Regions from separate parts of the Homo sapiens genome. Here all the other regions are reported to be linked to region 4. Evidence: microRNA targets listed by miRTarBase, many of them from high-throughput screens and not tested one by one. Region 4 holds a microRNA gene; each other region holds the end of a gene's coding sequence.

The links. The annotated mature microRNA hsa-miR-411-3p reads UAUGUAACACGGUCCACUAACC and lies in region 4 at 2,053-2,074, opposite strand. An mRNA with a match to its seed (bases 2 to 7 or 8) in the 3' UTR can be bound and repressed. Matches are read on the target gene's strand: a 7mer-m8 pairs with bases 2 to 8, a 7mer-A1 pairs with bases 2 to 7 and ends in A, and an 8mer does both.
Region 1: miRTarBase lists AZIN1 as a target of hsa-miR-411-3p. Seed matches in the 3' UTR shown: 7mer-A1 at 3,107-3,113 and 7mer-A1 at 1,176-1,182.
Region 2: miRTarBase lists NRF1 as a target of hsa-miR-411-3p. Seed matches in the 3' UTR shown: 7mer-A1 at 834-840 and 7mer-A1 at 2,146-2,152.
Region 3: the mRNA of NETO2 is a reported target of hsa-miR-411-3p. Seed matches in the 3' UTR shown: 7mer-A1 at 1,075-1,081, 8mer at 1,525-1,532 and 7mer-A1 at 2,232-2,238.
Region 5: the mRNA of CERT1 is a reported target of hsa-miR-411-3p. Seed matches in the 3' UTR shown: 7mer-m8 at 3,102-3,108.

What each region holds. Positions count from the first base shown.
Region 1 is chr8:102,825,136-102,829,428 of GRCh38, forward strand. AZIN1 (antizyme inhibitor 1) reads right to left here. Exons shown (of 12, transcript NM_148174.4): 11 at 4,137-4,293; 12 at 1,173-3,543. The coding sequence ends at 3,432. Among named protein-coding and RNA genes, the nearest start is that of GASAL1, 20 kb to the left of the region's middle.
Region 2 is chr7:129,754,687-129,758,979 of GRCh38, forward strand. It overlaps NRF1 (nuclear respiratory factor 1), which reads left to right. Exons shown (of 11, transcript NM_005011.5): 11 at 332-2,390. The coding sequence ends at 495. It also overlaps the pseudogene RNA5SP244. Among named protein-coding and RNA genes, the nearest start is that of MIR182, 14 kb to the right of the region's middle.
Region 3 is chr16:47,079,832-47,083,831 of GRCh38, reverse strand. NETO2 (neuropilin and tolloid like 2) reads left to right here. Exons shown (of 9, transcript NM_018092.5): 9 at 31-4,000. The coding sequence ends at 611. Among named protein-coding and RNA genes, the nearest start is that of NETO2, 62 kb to the left of the region's middle.
Region 4 is chr14:101,021,156-101,025,448 of GRCh38, reverse strand. It overlaps MIR411 (microRNA 411), which reads right to left and starts at 2,124; the gene lies at 2,029-2,124. LOC124903407 (mucin-2-like) reads right to left here. Exons shown (of 5, transcript XM_047432049.1): 5 at 1-4,293. It overlaps MIR379 (microRNA 379), which reads right to left and starts at 3,383; the gene lies at 3,317-3,383. MIR299 (microRNA 299) reads right to left here and starts at 1,655; the gene lies at 1,593-1,655. It also overlaps MIR380.
Region 5 is chr5:75,375,452-75,379,744 of GRCh38, forward strand. CERT1 (ceramide transporter 1) reads right to left here. Exons shown (of 17, transcript NM_001379029.1): 17 at 2,324-4,022. The coding sequence ends at 3,895. Among named protein-coding and RNA genes, the nearest start is that of HMGCR, 40 kb to the left of the region's middle. RefSeq lists a silencer at 4,219-4,293.

The sequences.
Region 1 (4,293 bases), not on the chromosome of region 4:
TACCAAGCTATCAACCACTGGCAGTATCTGCCATTTGCATCCATGTGCCAGGCACTTTCAAGGCCTGGTAAGGTTAAGTTCTAGTGTCTTCATCCTACAGACAAGAAACCAAGGCCCAGAGCAACTTGTCCAAATCAGTATAATCAATCTAATAGGTAATAAGGGTCGTTTATTGAGCCCTGTGTGCCAGCCAGTTCTAAGCACCTTGTAACTGTTACATCCTTATAACCTTATGAAGCTGCTACTTTTACTACCATCATTTTCTTTCTTTTCTTATTAGAGATAGGGTCTTACTTTGTTGCCCAGGCTGGAGTGCAGTGGTGTGATCGCGGCTCACTGCAGCCTCCACCTCTTGGGCCCAAGCAATCCTCCCACCTTGGCCTTTTGAGTAGCTGGGACTACCAGCTAATTTTGAATTTTTTTGGAGAGACACAGGTCTCCCTACATTGCCCAGGCTAGTCTTGAACTCCTGAGCTCAAGCAATCCTCTCACCTCAACCTTCCAAAGTGCTGGCATTTACGAGCATAAACCACTGTGCCTGGCCTTACCACGATTTTCCATCTGGGAAAACCGAAGCACAAAAGGGTTAGGTGACTAGCCTATGTTCATACAGACAGTAAATGGCAGAGGCAGGATTTGAGTCAAGCAGACTGGAGGCAAGGTCTACACCTTTAACCACCACCCTATACTAGTGCATTGCCTGAATAATTAAGTAAATCTTTGAATTTAAAGTTACTCCCCAAAATATTAAGTCACCCAGTTAACTAAAGTGTTCAAAGAACAAAGAGATGATGCTTTTCATTTCAGCAGAGTTCAGAAGACTTCTTAAGGCCAAGACAGGTTAGGAAACTAAAATATATACTCTAAAAAGAAGAAAAAAGGAATTAAGCAATGTGTGGCTTCTCTAACCCAGTATTTCCATTTAATGGTATTAATGCCCATATTTACTTGGAATAAATCTAGCTTAATTTGTCAATCTATTCATTTAGTCCGGGTTTTAAATTGTTAGGAGGCTAGTGAACTGAAGTGTCTAGAAAAGGCTGTCCTGGAAACAGTGCTCACATATATACTGGACTTTACCAAAATTTCACTGTTCTATATATAACTTCCAGCATTTTTTAGCAGAATCAATTTTCTTTCTAATAAAGCAAGATTGTTAATACACATAAAGCTGATATGTAAAATTTTACCTCTATTTCAGATAGAAGCCAAAGTAAAACATGAGGAATAAAAACATTTATCTATGTATTCAGAATCACACACAAGTTACCTTTACAGTTCAATTTACTATATAGAAATCATTGGGTTTTATATTTGCAGTTAACTTTTGAACTGAGATTACAATATTATAACAAAAAACTTTACATTAATTCAGAACTTTTTAGCATACCAAATTGAAATACATAGGTTCAAATTTCAGATTTATGGCAAACAGTCTTCAAATACAATACAGACATTTCTTAAAAGTTACCGTATCATTCACATGTGATATTTGCAACTCTGAGCTATTTCTTATAGAACAGCTCTCCTGCAGATATGGCAAAGTTGATATGCCATGAAGTTCAAGGCCTGTATAGTCAAGCCAAGGACTCAAAGTTGCACCATCTTTAAAAAGGTTTGGCATTTCTGGACCACAACAATGCACAACATGTAAAGAAGGTAGGAAACAGTTCCCCCTCCTTGTTAAATGGTTAAAAAAAGTTACATGGTAGCTTGGAATTTTGCATAAAACCCCATAATATACCTTGGAAAAGTCCAAGGGCAATTTGATGGCAATGGATTGGGGCCCTATATATATATATTTTTAATAGAACCCATGAGATTTAAATGGGCATTAATCAAATCAAAAAATATTAAGCACCTACTGGTTTAAGAGATTTAAATTTATTAGAGATTCATGATCAATTTCTTTCCACCTCGAAATCAAGGTGTAAAAACCAGCTATTAAGTGCATTCCAAACTTCTCCTATGTAGCACAGGTAGAATTTTCTGTCCATTGGCACCAAAGTGAAGTCACATTTCCTCTTGGGAGACAGAAATTCCACACCTGAACACAGAGTAAGTTAGGAAAAAATGACCCCTGTTGTTTATTACTATTGTGATTCTGAGATCTAGGATTTCTAATATACTAGCAGTAAACAAAGCAAATTCCTGGCAACAACTGTCAGGTTAGTGATGCTAACTCCCTTCCCCCAACCACCATAAAATTTTAGTAAGAAAAGAATTAAAAGTAATGACTAAGCAGAACAAATTGGAAATAACAAGAAACTAAGGGGACAGTTCAAACCAACAACAAAAAATCCTAAATTTGAAATCACTGCAACTGAAGATAATAAGTGTGCTTCACCCCAACCCCCATCCCAACTCTGAATTTAAACATTCCGTGCAAAAGAGCAACAGGTTTCTGGATAAAGATGTAGCCCTTCTTTAAGTTTTAGTGCTCTGCAGTTTTCTGCAATTTTATTTCCCTCCCCCCAAGTTTATTCAAAGTATTTAACAGAATCTTCCATTTCAGCCAAAAGATTGTGATTCAAAGATTTACTAAGGTACTCTATGCATTCTATCTATACAGAAACACCTATTTATTATTACAGTTGATTTATGCAGGATTAACATTTTTGGTGTTAAAATTGTTAAACATCATGCTTACTGCACATCAACTCTCCATAATGAATCTGAACTTCACAATGATTTACCAAACACTTTACTTAAATTACTAATTAAATAAATGAAAAATGCACCGAGCCAAACAAAACTTAACTGGGCTATAAAGAAAAAAACCCTTCAAAACAGTCCATATACACATCTATTTCAAAACTACCTTTGCTAGCTAGCCCCTTTCCCAAAGTTTTAGCCTGAAAAAACAGTAAAATCTACACAAAATTTTATTGCAATCATACAAGGGTTACATTAGGTCAACAAATACTATGATGCAATTTTACATTTATTAAACTACAGTTCAAAGCACAAATTTACACATTCTAAATACACTAAACGTTATCTAATGAAGTCACACTGGTCTTCTAACATTTGATATATCTGGGTGAAAGACATGAACTTTACAAGACTTTAAACACAAATCCTTAGTATAAAAACTGTGTTCTTGTATGTAAACGATTTAATGGGGAACCCAATTAATGGGCTTCCATCTCCACTAAGTCATCCATTTTGTTGCATATTTTATTTTAAACGCTTAAGGGGTAGGACAAACTGGTAGGTTTAAATCTGGATACATTATCTAAATCTCCCATTATCCCCAATGAATTATAGATGAAAGCTGATTTTGTCTGGTCCCAAATAGCTATTACTAATAGTTTTTGTTGCCAAAAGAATTAAGAGAATAAGATTGTTTAAATTATTTTTCCACACTGGAATGTTGACCAGACAAGCTTAACCTGCAACTTCAGATCTAAAGAAGCGTTAATGCCTGTTTAAGCTTCAGCGGAAAAGCTGTCTTCTTGGCTCAGCTGAATGCAAGAAGGCACAAAGAAGAAGTTCTTCATCATTGAGTCTGAAGTAATTCCAGCATCTTGCATCTCATACCTACGTAGAAAAAAAATCAGCTAAATTCTCAGTTTAAGCCCAAAGACCACGTAATCACATAACAAATGGATAATAAAACAGGATTATAACTAGTCTTCCAAAAACCTTTAAAAGATCATCATTTTTCTATGATAGTCATGCACTGCAGAGTGATGTTTTGGTCAAAGACTACACATATGACTGTGGTATACCGTAAAATTACAGTGAAGTTTAAAAAGTCCTATCACCTCGTTACATCGCAGCAATCATGTCATAGCACAATGTATTATCCTTTCTATGTTTAAGTAACTTAAGATACACAAACGCCACTGCATTACAACTGCCAACAGTATTAAACAGAGTAACATGCTGTACAGGTTTGTAGCCTAGGATCAATATACCACATGGCCTAGATTATGTAGTAGGTTATGCCATCATACAATCGCCTAATGTTGTATTTGTCAGAACAAATTCCCATCATTAAGTAACTACACTGTATAGGCAATACATGACTGTACTTCTAAGTTTAGCATTCATTACAGAATTAAAACTTATTAGCAAGTCTAAAAGGACAGTTCAAATATCCCATCTGCCTTAAAATAAAATCACCTTACCAATCACTGAATGACATCATGTAATAAATGGCTGGCCTCTGAAAATCATTAAAAGCAGATGGTTCATGGAAAGAATCTGCTCCCATGTTATCAAAGATAAGCCAATCTCCCACATTCAGCTCAGGAAGAAGACAGCTTTCCACAATTTGATCAAGCT
Region 2 (4,293 bases), not on the chromosome of region 4:
TTGTCACCACAATGAATGATAAATCTTTAAAGAGATTAATATGGTAATTTTCTTGATTTGATCATTCTACAGTGTATACATGCATTGAAACATCACATTGTACCCCATAAACATGAACAGTTACTATATATCAATTATAAATCTTAAAAATTAATGAAAAAAATTTTAATGGGGTGGGAAAGAGATGTCTTTGTGCCTGGGCCATGGGTATGTGATCACCTGAGGCTGGTGACCACGATACCTCAAAGGCAAGACTTGGGTGCCCCCGTCCAGCCAGCATCTGGGAACTTGAGCCTGAGCCCCACCAACGGTCTTCTCTTTGTCTCTCCAGGCCTGGTCCAGATCCCTGTGAGCATGTACCAGACTGTGGTGACCAGCCTCGCCCAGGGCAACGGACCAGTGCAGGTGGCCATGGCCCCTGTGACCACCAGGATATCAGACAGCGCAGTCACCATGGACGGCCAAGCTGTGGAGGTGGTGACATTGGAACAGTGACATACAGCCATATTATGGCATCGTTTTCTAGTCTACTTCAAAATTTTTTACACGTTTGCAGAGGTGCAATCAAATGGAATTAAGTCTCTCGACTTTGGAAGGAAAGTTTTGTTAACCTTTTTTTTTTTAAAAGGAAGAAAGCGGATTTTGGAATTGCATTTTTTAAAGCACCACTCTTGATTTTCTGGGATTGGTGAAGAAACTGCATTGTCAATTTCACTGTCCCAAAAAAGCCAAATTGTGGCAGGACTTCTTTCTGCGGAAATGTGTGTGTATACTTATGTGTGTGTATGTGTGAGTGTGAATATATGTATATGTGTACATATGGACATACACATTTACATATATATAAAGTATATATATACATATATATATATATATATGTATGAAACCCGCATGGAATTATCTGTATGAAATCAAGGTGCGCTGTGGAAACAATAATTCACCCAGTTTAGTGGGTGGTAGGGTACGTGGCCAGACACAGTCACCCAGTTTTTGTTCATACCAGGGTCATGCGTTGAGCTACTGACAAACTCAGGCGGAGGTGACCATGCCCTTCACCAAAGCTGCCTCCCAGTGGCCACACAGAACTCTCCCTGCTGGACTCACCTGAGGAAAGAGGCTCCAGCATGGGGTGGGTCAGAGATGTGCTTGCAAGGTCCAGGGACTGCGTGGTCTGCCAGCTGAGATGCTCCTCGGGCTGGCCCAGGTGCTGACCTTGCCACAGGCAGATGAATGTCTTGAAAGCTCCCGGGCCTCAGCCTCCCATCTCCTCTCCTTCCCAGGAATCCTTGATCTCATGACTATTAAAATGTTGCTCTGGTTTTAAGGTCAGTCCTGAATTGCTCGTATATATGAACTGAAGGTAACCGAAGTATTAGGGGTTTGAGGAGTGCGTGCGTGTAAGTGTGCTTGTGTGTGTGCGTGCATGGTGGGGGAGAGGATGGGAAGGGGGCGGGGGCAGTGGAAGGGAAAGGAAGGAAAGAAAAATCGTCCTAGACCAGGATACACCCGTGGGAGCAATTTTCTCTACTGTCTGTAGCTTCACAGAGGAGGCGCTGGAATGAACAAGAAGAGACATCTGGTCTGTGGCCACAGCACCCTGAACGCCCCTGATCTTGTGTGATCTTGGAAGCTAAGCTTGGTTGGGCCCGGTCAGTACGCGGAAGGGAAGAAGGGACACCTGGCCATAGAAAACAGCTGAGGGTGTTTGCTGTGTTCCTGGATCAGGCCCTGCTTCAGAAGGGACTCCTGGAGGCCCATGTTCCTTGATGCAACCTCGTGGCCCAGGCCGGGAGCAGCTTGCCTCCTCAGAGGTGTTGACTATCTGGGTGTTCTTGGTAACCGTTAACTCTGTCTTTCTCAGCTGCAAGCCCTGAGTCTCCAGTAGCTGAATTCACCTGACTTTTCAACAGGCCAAATCTCTGAACCTTGAGTACAGGGACAGCTCCTCCTCCCTCCTCCCAGCTCTCCCCATGTGTGTGATGGTGTATTTAATGTGTTTTTTTAATGCGACATTAAAAGATTCTCCACGTCTTGCTCAACCTTTGAGAGAAGTTTCAGATTCTTGTATTTGCTTGTTTTATATAAAACTATCTAATGTTCTTTATATGTTCTTTTCTGTACGTAATGGGGGGAGGGGAGGGAAATTTACATATAAATAGTCCTAGTTCTACAATTTGTTATTTTTTTAATTATTATTTTTTATCGTCATTGTGAAGTTGTCCAGGGACTTTAAAGTCCATGTTCCTTTGTGGTGAAATAACCTCCAAATAGTTTGAGAAGTTGCCAAGACGAAGAAAAAAGCAAAACCCCAGTAGCAGAGCATGGATTCTGTGTTGTTTCCCATTCTGTCTTTGACTGCCTCATTCAATAAATAGTTAAAAATGTGGCAACAGGAAGTGGAATTGTTCATCTCTATAGGAGCTCTTGGCTTCTTAGGCAAAAGGAACTCTATCTTGGGGCAGCTCGTTCTGCGTTTAAAATGCAGTCCTACTCGAGATCAGCGGTCTCCGACCTGTGCCACTCCGACGCTGGGGACCTCCGTAAAGAAGACACTGAAGATTGCCCAGAGCCCCCTGCGAGCCCCATCACCAGACCTGCTCCATTTCATACATTTCATATATAACGTGTTTTCTTATACTGACGTTCTGGGGAAAAAATCGTATTTAAAAAATCCTAGGCCGGGCACAGTGGCTCCCGCCTGTAATCCCAGCACTTTGGGAGGCCAAGGTGAGTGGATCACTTGAGGTCAGGAGTTCCAGACCAGCCTGGCCAACATGGTGAAACCTTGTCTCTACTAAAAATAGAAAAATTAGCTGGGCATGGTGGCGGGCGCCTGTAATCCCAGCTATTCAGGAGGCTGAGGCAGGAGAATCGCTTGAACCCAGGAGGCGGAAGTTGCAGTGAGCTGAGATCACACCACTGCACTCCAACCTGGGCAACAGAGCGAGACTCCATCTCAAAAAAAAAATAAAAATAAAAAATGAGGGTGAGTGATGGTGCCTCTCCATCTTGGGAATTACTATTAAAGTGAATTGTCTTTCTTTCTCCAAGCAGAAGCCTCAAGCCATGACTTGTTCCCCTGCATCCTCACTCCCTGGTTTCTCACACAGCTTACTCTCTTAACATGGCATATGCCATCGCTCCAGCTGTTCCTCCTGCCCCATCCTTAGGCCCTTCATAGACCCCAGTAGCCTGCACCTCCATGCTTCTGCATGCCCTGGCCTCAGCCTGGAATGACCTGCTGTCACCCCCACCACCCTTTCTTTATATTGTTGGGTGTCTTGGCCACTTTCCTGGTGACCATGATTAGAATGCTTGCTTGGATGGGAAGGCCAAGAAGCCTTTTCCTTGATGCCTGATGGTGGTTCAGTGAAGCCAAGTGCCTACCTTTCCCCCTTCTTGCACAAATGGCATACCCTCGCCTATTTTTCACCAGAGACTGGACTAGAAAAAGGATTGAGTGCAGCCAAATCAACCACACATCCGTGCTATTGACTACCATGAAATAGCTGGGTTGTTTAGAATACCTGCTGACCAAGGGTCTCTCCAGAGGCGTCTTCTAGCTGCTGTTTGCCTGGCAAGCCTCAGATGCTGCCTTTGCCACAGGCATGTATTGACAACTGGTTTTGGTGGGGCCGATGGAGACCTCTTCCATTCCTGCCTAAGTCACCAACAGGAGCTGCTAACTCCGCTGTCTATAGAGACCAGGGAGGTCAAATCAATGAAGGAAGCTGAGGCAATTCCCATGTGAGAGGAGGGAGTGATGGGGACAGGCACAGTGGACAGCATCCATCTAAACGGGGCAGCCTGTCCTAGGTGCTGATTGTCACCATGCAGGAAGATGGACCCTAATGCCCCAACTTCAAAATTGTCCAGAGAATCTGGGGAATCCAGATTTTTGTACGAGATGTGATCGCAACAAATAAAAAATTTACATACTCTGCAAGCAAAATAAAACCCATCTGTAGACCAGACCTGACCTGACGGTCAGTTGCACTTAACTACGTGAATGCTTGTCATGTGCCAGGTGAATGAAGCATGGTAGTTGCCTGTGAGAAACAAGGAGTGAGGAGGAGACCTTTACATAAACCAACCGCTGCAGTCCAAGGTGATGAGGCACCATCTGGACAGAGCACTAGTGCAGAATGAGCTGTTTACCGCATTTGAGCCCTCAAAGGTCCTCTGTTACGTAGTTTATCATCTAGGCTCCACACAAGGATCTGGTGCTCACAGAAACCAGGAGACTGGTCTAAAAGTTACTGGCTTTAAGTCTTGCATCTGAGAAGGCCCACT
Region 3 (4,000 bases), not on the chromosome of region 4:
AACTTAACGTTTCTCATTTTCTTTCTGCAGAAAAGAAAAAAGCAGGAGTATTTGAACAAATCACTAAGACTCATGGAACAATTATTGGCATTACTTCAGGGATTGTCTTGGTCCTTCTCATTATTTCTATTTTAGTACAAGTGAAACAGCCTCGAAAAAAGGTCATGGCTTGCAAAACCGCTTTTAATAAAACCGGGTTCCAAGAAGTGTTTGATCCTCCTCATTATGAACTGTTTTCACTAAGGGACAAAGAGATTTCTGCAGACCTGGCAGACTTGTCGGAAGAATTGGACAACTACCAGAAGATGCGGCGCTCCTCCACCGCCTCCCGCTGCATCCACGACCACCACTGTGGGTCGCAGGCCTCCAGCGTCAAACAAAGCAGGACCAACCTCAGTTCCATGGAACTTCCTTTCCGAAATGACTTTGCACAACCACAGCCAATGAAAACATTTAATAGCACCTTCAAGAAAAGTAGTTACACTTTCAAACAGGGACATGAGTGCCCTGAGCAGGCCCTGGAAGACCGAGTAATGGAGGAGATTCCCTGTGAAATTTATGTCAGGGGGCGAGAAGATTCTGCACAAGCATCCATATCCATTGACTTCTAATCTTCTGCTAATGGTGATGTGAATTCTTAGGGTGTGTACGTACGCAGCCTCCAGGGCACCATACTGTTTCCAGCAGCCAACCCTTTTCTCCCATCACAACTACGAAGACCTTGATTTACCGTTAACCTATTGTATGGTGATGTTTTTATTCTCTCAGGCAGTCTATATATGTTAAACCAATCAAGGAACTTACTCTATTCAGTGGAAACAATAATCATCTCTATTGCTTGGTGTCATTTATAGGAAGCACTGCCAGTTAAAGAGCATTAGAAGAGGTGGTTGGATGGAGCCAGGCTCAGGCTGCCTCTTCGTTTTAGCAACAAGAAGACTGCTCTTGACTGATAACAGCTCTGTCAATATTTTGATGCCACAATAAACTTGATTTTTCTTTACATTCCTTTTATTTTTCCTTTCTCTAAATTTAATTTGTTTTATAAGCCTATCGTTTTACCATTTCATTTTCTTACATAAGTACAAGTGGTTAATGTACCACATACTTCAGTATAGGCATTTGTTCTTGAGTGTGTCAAAATACAGCTAGTTACTGTGCCAATTAAGACCCAGTTGTATTTCACCCATCTGTTTCTTCTTGGCTAATCTCTGTACTTCTGCCTTTTAATTACTGGGCCCTTATTCCTTATTTTCTGTGAGAAATAATAGATGATATGATTTATTACCTTTCAATTATATTTTTCTCAGTTATACTAGAAAATTTCATAATCCTGGGATATATGTACCATTGTCAGCTATGACTAAAAATTTGAAAAAGATAAAAATTTCTAGCAAGCCTTTGAAGTTTACCAAGTATAGTCACATTCAGTGACAGCCCATTCATTCCAGTAAAGAATCATTTCATTCACTTTGGGAGAGGCCTATAATTACATTTATTTGCAATGTTTCTCTTCGCTAGATTGTTACATAGCTCCCATTCTGTTGGTTTTGCTTACAGCATATGGTAACCAAGGTTAGATGCCAGTTAAAATTCCTTAGAAATTGGATGAGCCTTGAGATTGCTTCTTAACTGGGACATGACATTTTTCTAGCTCTTATCAAGAATAACAACTTCCACTTTTTTTTAAACTGCACTTTTGACTTTTTTTATGGTATAAAAACAATAATTTATAAACATAAAAGCTCATTGTGTTTTTTAGACTTTTGATATTATTTGATACTGTACAAACTTTATTAAATCAAGATGAAAGACCTACAGGACAGATTCCTTTCAGTGTTCACATCAGTGGCTTTGTATGCAAATATGCTGTGTTGGACCTGGACGCTATAACTTATTGTAAAGACCTTGGAAATGTGGACATAAGCTCTTTCTTTCCTTTTGTTACTGTATTTAGTTTGTGATAAATTTTTCACTGTGTGATATTTATGCTCTAAATCACTACACAAATCCCATATTAAAATATACATTGTACCTGACCCTTTAATCATGTTATTTATGCCACCAAGGTTGTGGATCTTAAGGTATGTATGGAAAGGAACTCATTTATCAAATTGTAAGTAATACAGACATGCCATTTAAAAGAGGTAAATTCTTGTTTTCTATATTTTGTTAGTAAATTCTCAATGAAATAAGTTGAAGTTTCACTGGATTTCATTAACTTTTAAATATTACATATATGTGTTTTCTCAGATTAGTGAAAATTGTGACCTTAAATTTAATACACATATACTGCCTCAGAGTGCTTTCTTGTATCAAAATTTTTGTTTTTTAAAAAAGTAGATAATATTTAGGAGACAGAAAAACCTATACATAATGTATTCATGATTTAAATTTTTTTAAGTCAGCCTAGTTTCTTGTTTTAAAAATATAACGTGGAAACATGAAAAGACTTGATGCATATAATATTCAATGAACTAATACCAGAGACAGCTAAGTTTTTTCAGTAGTTATGCTGAATAAGCATTTTAGTAGGTAACTTACACCAGCTAACATTTGAACAGCATAATAAATACTTAATATAACAACAACTATGATCTTATGATGATAAAAGGGAAGTTAGCATATTTTCTATGTAAAATTATTCATTTTTTAAAATAGCTGTTAAACCTATATTTAATCTTTAGATTATAATAGCAAATAATACAGTATGCTAAACTATAGTCACTTGTAACTACATTTTTGTTTTTGAAATTTGATTTCTATTTATAAGGTCTTGAAGAGGCCTACAAAATACAGAGCCTTTAAAGAAGACATAACAGTAAAATAGAAGTACACAGTTTTATACGAGTCAATGTAGCAAGTAACATTTAGACAGTAAGTTTGGTTCTGAATTTTCTGGCTGCTAAAACACTTTTTGCTTTTCACAGTAAAAAAACTTATGTGCAGAGGCTAATTTCCTCTTGAACTACAGCATGAGGGTCTGTATATAGGAACATTTCTTCAGAATGTAAAAAAGATGCAAAATGGAGACAGAGGTTATAATGGTGCTTCTTAACCCAGTGAAGGCACAACTTAATGTCGTCTAGGAACATTGGTTTAGGGTCAGTCTGTATTTTCAGGGATAGAACTAAAGAACCAGATGATCAATAGCTAAGCCAGCCTTAGCCTGTCACATGTTATACACCTTCATTGAATCATAGATGGGCATTAGATCTCATTTATTTATTAAACTTCTCTATGCTTTTGGAAGAGGTAAGAATGGAACTAATAAATCTTAGGCATTATTGCCAGAATAATGCTAATTGCTGTATATACAGCCTTTAATCTTTGAGATCAGTGAGAAAACTTTATAAATTGCTTACTAAAATGAAAGCCATAAAATTTAATAACAGAAGACATGAAATTTAGCAATCTTGTGGAATTCATTACACAGTATTAACTGTCACGCAGGGTACCCCACACAGTGTCCCAGTGTTGAACACAAAATGCAAATCTGGAAGGGATAAATATCTTCAATTCAGAAACAGCATTAAGTATACCTGTATAATACTGTCACCATTATCTTCCATCTGCAATTCACCGCATCATCCCCCAAATGCCCACAGATCTATTGCAGGAAACCTACTAATCCCAACATCTAAAGCATGTAGGAATAAGATGTGATATTCCTTTTGTGTGTGGGGAGAGTGTCAATCTAAACGTTTAACAAAAGGCAAAGAATGTTCACATTTCACATCACAAAAGAGATTTCAAAGACTCCTTTAACCCGACAGCGCTTATGTCAGTGTCTTTGTCATGTTTCATAGAATTGTTAGACTTTAAAAGAACCTCCTGAAAGTCTGCCTCTGAACATTTGTATGGTTCTGCCAATGTCTGATGAGAAGAATGCTTCCCTGTTTGAGGAGTGTGTTCACTGATGAGAGGGGACGGGAGAAGCCTGGTTGTGATTTCAGGAATAATTCTCAAAGGAGATTATACTCTTATTGCAAAATGGGGT
Region 4 (4,293 bases):
AATGCCACTACCACCTCCAGGATGCCCTGTAAGGGTGGGACCGGTACTGAGTTCTTGGCTGGTGGACCAAATGGCCAATGTAATAAATAAAGGACTGGGTCTGCAGCCAACCACCCGGTGACCTGCACTGCACCCTGGCTACCACTCAGGCCTGGCTCTCAAGTCGGCATGGCCTCCGGGAAGCCCCAGGGCTGGCTGATACTGAGAATGAGTGGACCATGCTACATCTGTCATTCAACAATGCATATGCTTTATGCTCTACCATCTCTCCAAGTACTGTGGAATGGCGCTGAAGCCAGATCAGTGTGTCTCCCACGAAGGTGACTTTGCCTCTCTCTGGGAAGCCCTCTATGACTGAATTTGATATTGAGAAGATGTGGACCATATTACATACGACACAGAGATAGCGCATGTTCTATGGTCAACCATCTTTTCAGGTACCTTGGAGAGGGCTGAGGTCAGAGCCGGTGTCTCTTTCCTCTCACTAGCATCACCTCCAGGAAGCCCTCTGAGGCCTGATGTAGTATTGAGAAGAGGCCACCATGCAATGTCTGCCGCAGATGCAGTGGACGCAGCACAAAGGAGCCCCTCAAGAATGGAGATGATGCTGGAACTAGTGCTATGACTGACACTCGTTCCTGCCTACAGAAAGCCCCCCGAGGTGCACGCTGTTATAGGAAGGTGGACGAAGTAACATGCGTTGTAAGTAAAACATATGAAGCATGGCCAACTTCTACTAAGTACCCCGAGGCAGTACTTGTACCAGAACTGGTGCTTTGTCTCCTAAGCTTAACATAACCTCCCTGGAGACTTTCCAGGCTGAATGGGATACTTCAAAAGAAGTAGACCATGTTACATACGTCATGGGGAAAAGACATGCAGTGTGGCTGAACCCTTTTCAGGTACCGTGAGGTCAGTGAAGAGGCCAGAACCAGTGCTCTGTCCCTGAGGCTGGCAGCTTCTTCAGCAAGTTCTCCAAGCAAGGGTTCTGGGATGGAGATAGGGAAGAAGTGGGCCATGGAGGCACTTCCTCTGTAAACATACACGATGGGGTCGAGCAGCTCTTCATGAGGATCAGTGCTGAGTCCAGAGCTGGGACATCTTCCCCCGAGATGGCTAGACTTGAGATGGAAAAAAGATAGACTGTACACGCATCAGCAAAGACAAAAACGAGTCAGTGCGTCTTCAAGTACCTGGAGTGGCATCATCTCCTGGACCCATATCTGCTCCTACATGGGCGTACTGTCCTGAAGTCATCTGAGGAGGGCTCTGAGGATGAGAGGTGACCTGTTTCACATCCCTCGTTCATGAACATTTGCGGCACCAGCCACCGTTTCTTCAATTACTCCAGAGGGATGTGCCAACGTGGGCAGTAGGACACCTTCCTGGAGGTCATCCTTGTCCTGAGGAAGTCACTGGAGGCTGTGTTTGGCACTGAGGAGAAGACCGCATCACAAGCATTGACAGAGAAAGCACACATCTAAGAGTCTACCATTCCACCAAGTGCCATGGCATGGCGGATGCCGAGACCCGTGGCTCTCCTCTAACTCCAGGCTTTCTCCAGGGAGGTTTGGATGGCTGGGCTGGATACCAAGAAGCGGTTTACCATCCCACATACATATTCAAAATGTATGTGGGACGGTAAACCATTTCTTCAAGTACCGCACGATGGTGGTGGTGGTGGCTGGAAGAAGGCTCATGTCCACGAAGTTGCCTGAGGGCGCTTCTTCTAGGCTGCATTTGACGCTGAGAAGAAGCAGGTCACGGTGTCTACTGAATAAGCGTAGCGTAGTCAACCACGTCATTGAGCACCATGGAATGGCACTGATTCCGGGAAGAATCAAGGTCTCCTCCCCAGGGATGGCGCGATTTCCCAAGGCAGAACTTGATTTAAGAGGAGCGAGATTATGCCATTTTGCATCATGCAGAAAAACACATGCCATACAGAAAATCATCTCTTCGGGTGTCATGGAGAAGTGGTGGTGGGTCCAACCGTTCCTCCCCGAAGACAGCGTTGTTTCCAGGAGCCTCGGGGATGGATTTGATACTGAGGGTTAGTGGACCGTGTTACATACGTCACAGATAAAGCGTACGCTATACGGTCTACTATCTCTCCAAGTACCACACAGAGATGCCGAGGACAAAGGCTCAGGACACATCCAGAAAGCCCTCCAAGGCCTTGAGCTGGGTGGAACCAGAAGGGAGGTTGAGCACAGCACATGCATCATGCGACAAGCACACACAGGCCAGGAGTCTCGTCTTCATGGTCGGGGGTTGACATGAATGCTCGAAGCAGTGGCTCATCCCCAAAACTGGCAACTCCTCCAGGAAGCCCTTCGAGGCCGAAAGTCCCACTGAGAAGAAGTGGACGATGATATGGATTTCATCACTCCATAAATACTGATTAAGTGCCTGCTGTGTGCCAGGCGCACTGTGCTGGGTCTGAAGGAGTGGGTAGATGGGAGGGAGGACATGGCACATGGCTAACAGAGCTGGTTAGGGGAGTGGGGAGAAAATCAGAAATACAAAATGGCCCACGTGCAACCAAAGAACATCCATCTAGTTACACTAACCAGGCCAAGGAAACAGTACTGGGCACCTGAGGCCCAGATCTTACCTATTAGTGAGCTCTAGTCTTGGGCATTAAAAAAAAAAAAAAAGTGCCCTAAGGCCATATCTGCCTCAATACCAAGGGCATTTCCAGGAGGTCCTCTTAGGTTGGATTAGATTCTGAGCAGTAACCACCATGCCATCTTCATGAACAAAGCAGGAGTTGTTTTGGTCAACCACCTCCCTAAGGACAGAACCACTGTCTCATTCCCAGACTTGGCACTGCCTCCGGAAAACCCTGAGACTGAATGTAAGATTGATCAGAGGTGGACATTGGTATAAACAGAAAACTTCAACACAGGAAAGCAACTCTTCAATGCCACACAGCGGAATGAAGGATGGACTGGTGGGTCCCCCTGAAGGTAGTATTGGCTCCACGAAGCCCTCCAAAGCTGGCAGGCTACTGGGAAGTGGTAGCCCATCTCACACAAATCCCTCCTTTCGCACAGGCCACATGGCAAATCATCTCTTCCAGAACCACGGCTGAGGCTGGAACCGGTGTCTTGAGCCCAAGTTGCATCACTTCCAGAAAACTCCCCAGAGAGTGCATTTAGTGCCCAGAAGAGCCAGGCCTTGTTGCACAAGTCAGACATCAACCATGAGCCACAGAAATTGCCGTGGAGCAGTGCTGAAGCTAAACCACGTGTTCTCTTCCCTGAAGTTGGCAACACCTCCAGGAAGCCCTCCGAGGATGGATTGGATACTGAGAGTTAGTGGACCATGTTACATAGGTCAGAAATCATAACGCCTACGTTCCATAGTCTACCATCTCTTCAGGAACCACGGAATGGTGCTGACCCCAGAACCAGGGCCTTGCCCCTGAAGTTGGCGTCACTTCCAGAAAGCTTTCTGAGGCTGGATTTGGCATTGGAAGCAGGCACATGGTGAACATAAACAACCCCTCCTCCAATGTGGGGCAGTGGCATTGATGGGGGAAGGGGTGCCTCTACCCTAAGTGGTAATTCCTCCAGGAAGGCCATGTCAACTTGGAAAGACTGCGACAAGGCAAAATGTACAATACTGACCATGCTTTGGCCATTATGTGGTCAACTATCTCTTCATCAAGATAAAGGGCAGTGTTTTGTTCTGCATGGCAAATGGGACACTCCAAGAGCACAGTTCATCATATAAAAGGGGACCCTCAACCTCTAGGTAAAAACTTCCCTAGCTCACCCAAGTTCCGATGGTCCTCGCCATGCTCTAGACCACCTTTGGAGACTCAAACCACAGAGCTGAGTGGGCAGTGCGTTCCTCCAGCTCCTGATTAACCTCTCCACCTCCTTCAGGAGGTCTTCCTTGATTTTCTCCATCCCCTTTCATGGCACAACTATCCCATGTGAATGGAATGCAAAGCAATGATTTGTTAGCCTCCAGGGAAAGGACAAGGGCAGAACCCTCAGCAGCCCTGCAGGACAGCTCGGTTGTCCTCTAAAGTCCTGAACCCCAGTGTAGACGGGGCCCTGCAACTCAGTTGTTGAAGTCCTAACTCCTTAGGAAGTCATTCAAGGCATCATGCTCCCCTGCTCCCTCCAAGTGTGAGCTAGTCTAGTCTAAGAGATTACCCTCCATACCCCGTGCATTGTCCACATGCCTTTGCTGGCACTACTCCTCCACCCAGACCCCGTGTCTGCTTACATCTCTCTGAAGCCCAACCAAATGGCAGTTCTTCCACGAGCCCGACCC
Region 5 (4,293 bases), not on the chromosome of region 4:
GGTGTGTGCCTATAGTCCCAGCTACCCAGGGAGGTAGGAGGAACACCTGAGCTTGAGAAGTTGAGGCTGCAGTGAGCTGAGATCGCTCCAGTGTACTCCAACCTGGGCGACAGGAGTGAGATGCTGTCTCAAAATAAATAAATAAATAAATAAATAAATAAATAAATAAATAAATAAATAAAATAAATAAAAATATATATTATATATAATATATATATAAAGTTTTTACTGTTAAACAACTTTGGATCTTATTAACTCTTTACAGAACTTTCTCTAAAGATGATACACACATTATTGAATGTTACTATTTTTTTCCATCACCAAAATTAAGAATGTTCGCTTTCCTAGGGTTTCAATGCTGGGTTCGACTTCATACATTTATCTTCCATAATTATTGTAAAAAAAAAAAAAAAGTTACGTTACAGTAACAAAGATTTTACCATGTTAAGGTTTGAATTTGGATCTTTGTTAGAAAGAAGCTCAATCTGGACTCAAAAAGCCAAATCTGAGTTTGGGCCAATGAATCTTTTCAGCTGTATCTTTGCACACATATACATGTACCCACAAACAATAGACCTCTCTTCCCCAGAGATGAATTTTTTCAGATTCCAAGCTCCTCCCTCCCAGGTCCACAAATGAAAAATCTGTGAACATACACATGCACACACACAGAGAGTCAATGAAACACCGCTCTAAATCCAAGTCTAGAAGCAAATGCTGCTAATATCCTACCATTTATCTTTCAACTGTTTAAAAAATTATTCTTCTCAAATATAATTGAGAGCATGTTTTACACACAACTGCATTCAGATTTCTCTTGCTTTAATACAAAGTTGTATTTCTGCCTTGCTTGGTTGAATATCTGAGAACCTTTGGTAAGGAAGTCATCATAAAGCATCAAGAGGGAGGCCGTTTCAGTGAGGTCATAGTGAAGAAGAGAGAAGGCAGATATAGTTAGAGTGAAACAAAATCTGGTCTTGGATAGAGTGAAACAGCACCACTTTAAAAACCCTAGAGGCCATGGCAAAGAGACACACAGCGAAGCAGGGTGATAAGCCTGTTGCTGTCACGTGCCATCAGTTTTCTGGTTTATTTGATAAATATGGCACAGACTCAGAATCGATAAGAAGTAATGTGTCCAGATCTAGCTATAACAATTCTAAAGTACAAGATATAAAAATTGTCAGCACACTGAATGCAGTGCACTTGTGCTTGAAGAGAGAATCCCTAAAGGGTAAGGCTATATTCCAAAACACCAATCATTCAGGTAACTAAGACTGGAACCTATTTAATATTTTCAAATACCCTTTTTCCTGGGATAAAGCTAAACAACTGAGACATCAATGCAATATCCCTTATGTTAGTATGGGATATTAGTTAGTATCGGACAATAAATTTAGCTTTTGCATTTTTTAAAAGAAAGACATACTATAAACATCATTAGAAATCAGACTTGTTTAAAATTATTTCATTATATAATTGACTATTATTTTTAGCTAAAGAAAAGGACTCAAGAATATACATTTCTCAGTCAATTATTTAACATCCAGTGTAGGTGAGAATGAGAGAATATTCATGTTATTGCTTACCATTTGTGTATCACAATTGGCAATATCTACTAATATTTTAAATGTTATTACAAAATAGAATTTATAGAAATAGTACTATACAAAAGATTCTCAATGGACTAAAGCAGGCTTAAACTCAGTCATAAGAAGAGGAATACAATTAAAACTACACTGAGAGAGTATTTTTCACCTAATGAGTTGGGAAAGTTATAAAGTTTTGTTTTACACGTTGTATGAAAAACTGTGGGACACAGGGACTCCAATTCATTATTGCTGTTGAGATGGTCAATTACTATAACCTCTATGAAAAGTAGTATCTAAATTATGCACAAACCCCTAGCAGGGCCAGTAGTACCACATCTATTAATTTTCCCACATATAAACTTGCAAGTACAAAATGACATATGGATACAATTATGACACTGCTCTGGCAGAAATTGGAAACTGTAATATTCGCCAATGCAGAACTGATTAAATAAATTATGTACATCTATACAATGGGATACTGTATAACCATCAAAATGAGGAAGCTCCTTACAAATATGTGAGACCTTCAAGATAAAATAAATGCAAATATAAGATGTTGAACAGTGTTTATAGTATGCTGCTGCTTCTTTAACAACAAAAAAAGTGTATCTGTGTAGAAAATACACTTGTATTTGTTCATTCAAGCATTAAAAACTTTCTAGAAGAAACTAGTAATAGCATATGTTAATACTATATGGTGAATGCAAGACAGGGTAAATTTTACTGTATAACTTTTTCATACTTTTGACTTTATTTATTTATTTTTTGACAGACATTACCTGTCCAGGCTGGAGTGCAGTCGTGTAATCACAGCTCACTGCAGCCTCAAACTCCCAGACAAAGCGATCTTCCTGCTTCAGCCTCCCAAGTACCTAGGACTATACATGTATACCACCACGCCTAATTGTTTTTTGTCAAGATGGAATCTTGCTATGTTATCCAGGCTAGACTTGAACTCCTGGCCTCAAGCCATTCTCCCACCTCAGTCTCCCAAAAAGTGTTGGGATTACAGGTGTGACCCACTGCACCTGGCCACTTTTGGCTTTTAATCATGTTAACGTATCACTTACTTTAAAAAGTTAAAGATTTTGGGCTGAGTGCAGTGGCTCACGCCTGTAAACCCAGCATTTTGGGAGGCCCAGGAGAGCAGGTCACCTGAGGTAAGGAGTTCGAGACCAGCCTGGCCAACATGGTGAAACCCTGCCTCTACTAAAAATACAAAAATAGGCTGGGCGTGGTGATGGACGCCTGTAATCCCAGCTACTCGGGAGGCTGAGGCAGGAGAATCGCTTGAACCTGGGAGGCAGAGGTTGCAGTGAGCCAAGATTGCACCACTGCACTCCAGCCTGGGCAGCAAGAGAGAAACTTTGTCTCAACAACACCAAAATAAAGTTAAAGATTCTACCTCTTTGCATAAAGGTGTTCAGTGCTGTACTGGTTGACAGTAAAAATATGGAACCAACTCAGACATTAACATGGGACTAGTTAATAAATTCTGCAACATGCATGTAACAGATGTTAAAAGAATGAGATGTTTTACACATCTCATGTCTTATAAAGAAAGATAGTCAAGATACATTGTTAAGTGAAAAAAAGGTTATAAAACAAGAATTTTGTATAATAGTAAGTATAAACATTTTAACATTCAAAAATATGTCAGTACATACACAGAAAAATCTGGAGGAATATACAACAAAAATAACAGTTTCTGGGAAAGGAAAGAATACAGGAAGTTTGCACTTCTACAATTCTACAGTTCTATAATATCAAAATTTCTTTACATAAGCATTAGAAGAAAAAGGAAACAATAAAAGAATTAAGTTTTAAAGGCTATAAACTACAATTTTCAAGGCCAGGCACGGTGGCTCATGTCTGTAATCCCAGCACTTTGGGAGGCTGAGGCAGGAGGATTGTCTGAGGCCAGGAGTTCAAGACCAGCTTGGGTAACATAGCAAGACCCCTATCTCTACAAAAAATAAAAAATTAGCTGAGCATGGTGGCACATGCCTGTGGGGACTCCCAGCTACTGGGAAGGCTGAGATGAGAGGATTGTTTGAGGCCAGAGGTTGAGGTTGCAGTGAGCCGTGATGGTGTCATTGCACTTCAGCTTAGGAAACAGAGCAAGACCCTGTTTAAAACAACAACAACGACAACAACAAAAACCAACGAAACAATACTCTATAGGGGAACATCAAAAAACATAGTAAATACTTTCAACAACTAAATTTTAGTATTGACAGTCATATTAGTCAAATAAAGTTAAAAAAAGATAAAACATATCTTCTAGTACCTGTTAATACTAGAACAAAATAGGCTTTCCTGCAGTTTTTTCTTGGACGTAAGAAGTAAAACGTTTTAGAAATTTAGGATACTCTCGCTTTGCCACTGCCCTTAACACTGAGGCTGGTGCCCATCCTCCAGGGTTCACTGCAAGATAAAGGAAAATTAAAATGTATTAAGATACAATTCTCCAAACATATGTGAAGCACTTAATTTGTTCCCTTGTTTTTAAAATATTCCTCACATTGGACCAATTAGCATCTTTTTTTTTTCTTTTTGAGACGGAGTCTTGCTCTGTTGCCAGGGTGCAGTGCAGTGGCGCGATCTTGGCTCACTGCAACTTCCGCCTCCGGGGTTCAAGTGATTCTCCTGCCTCAGCCTCCGGAGTAGCTGGGATTACAGGTGCACGCCACCATGC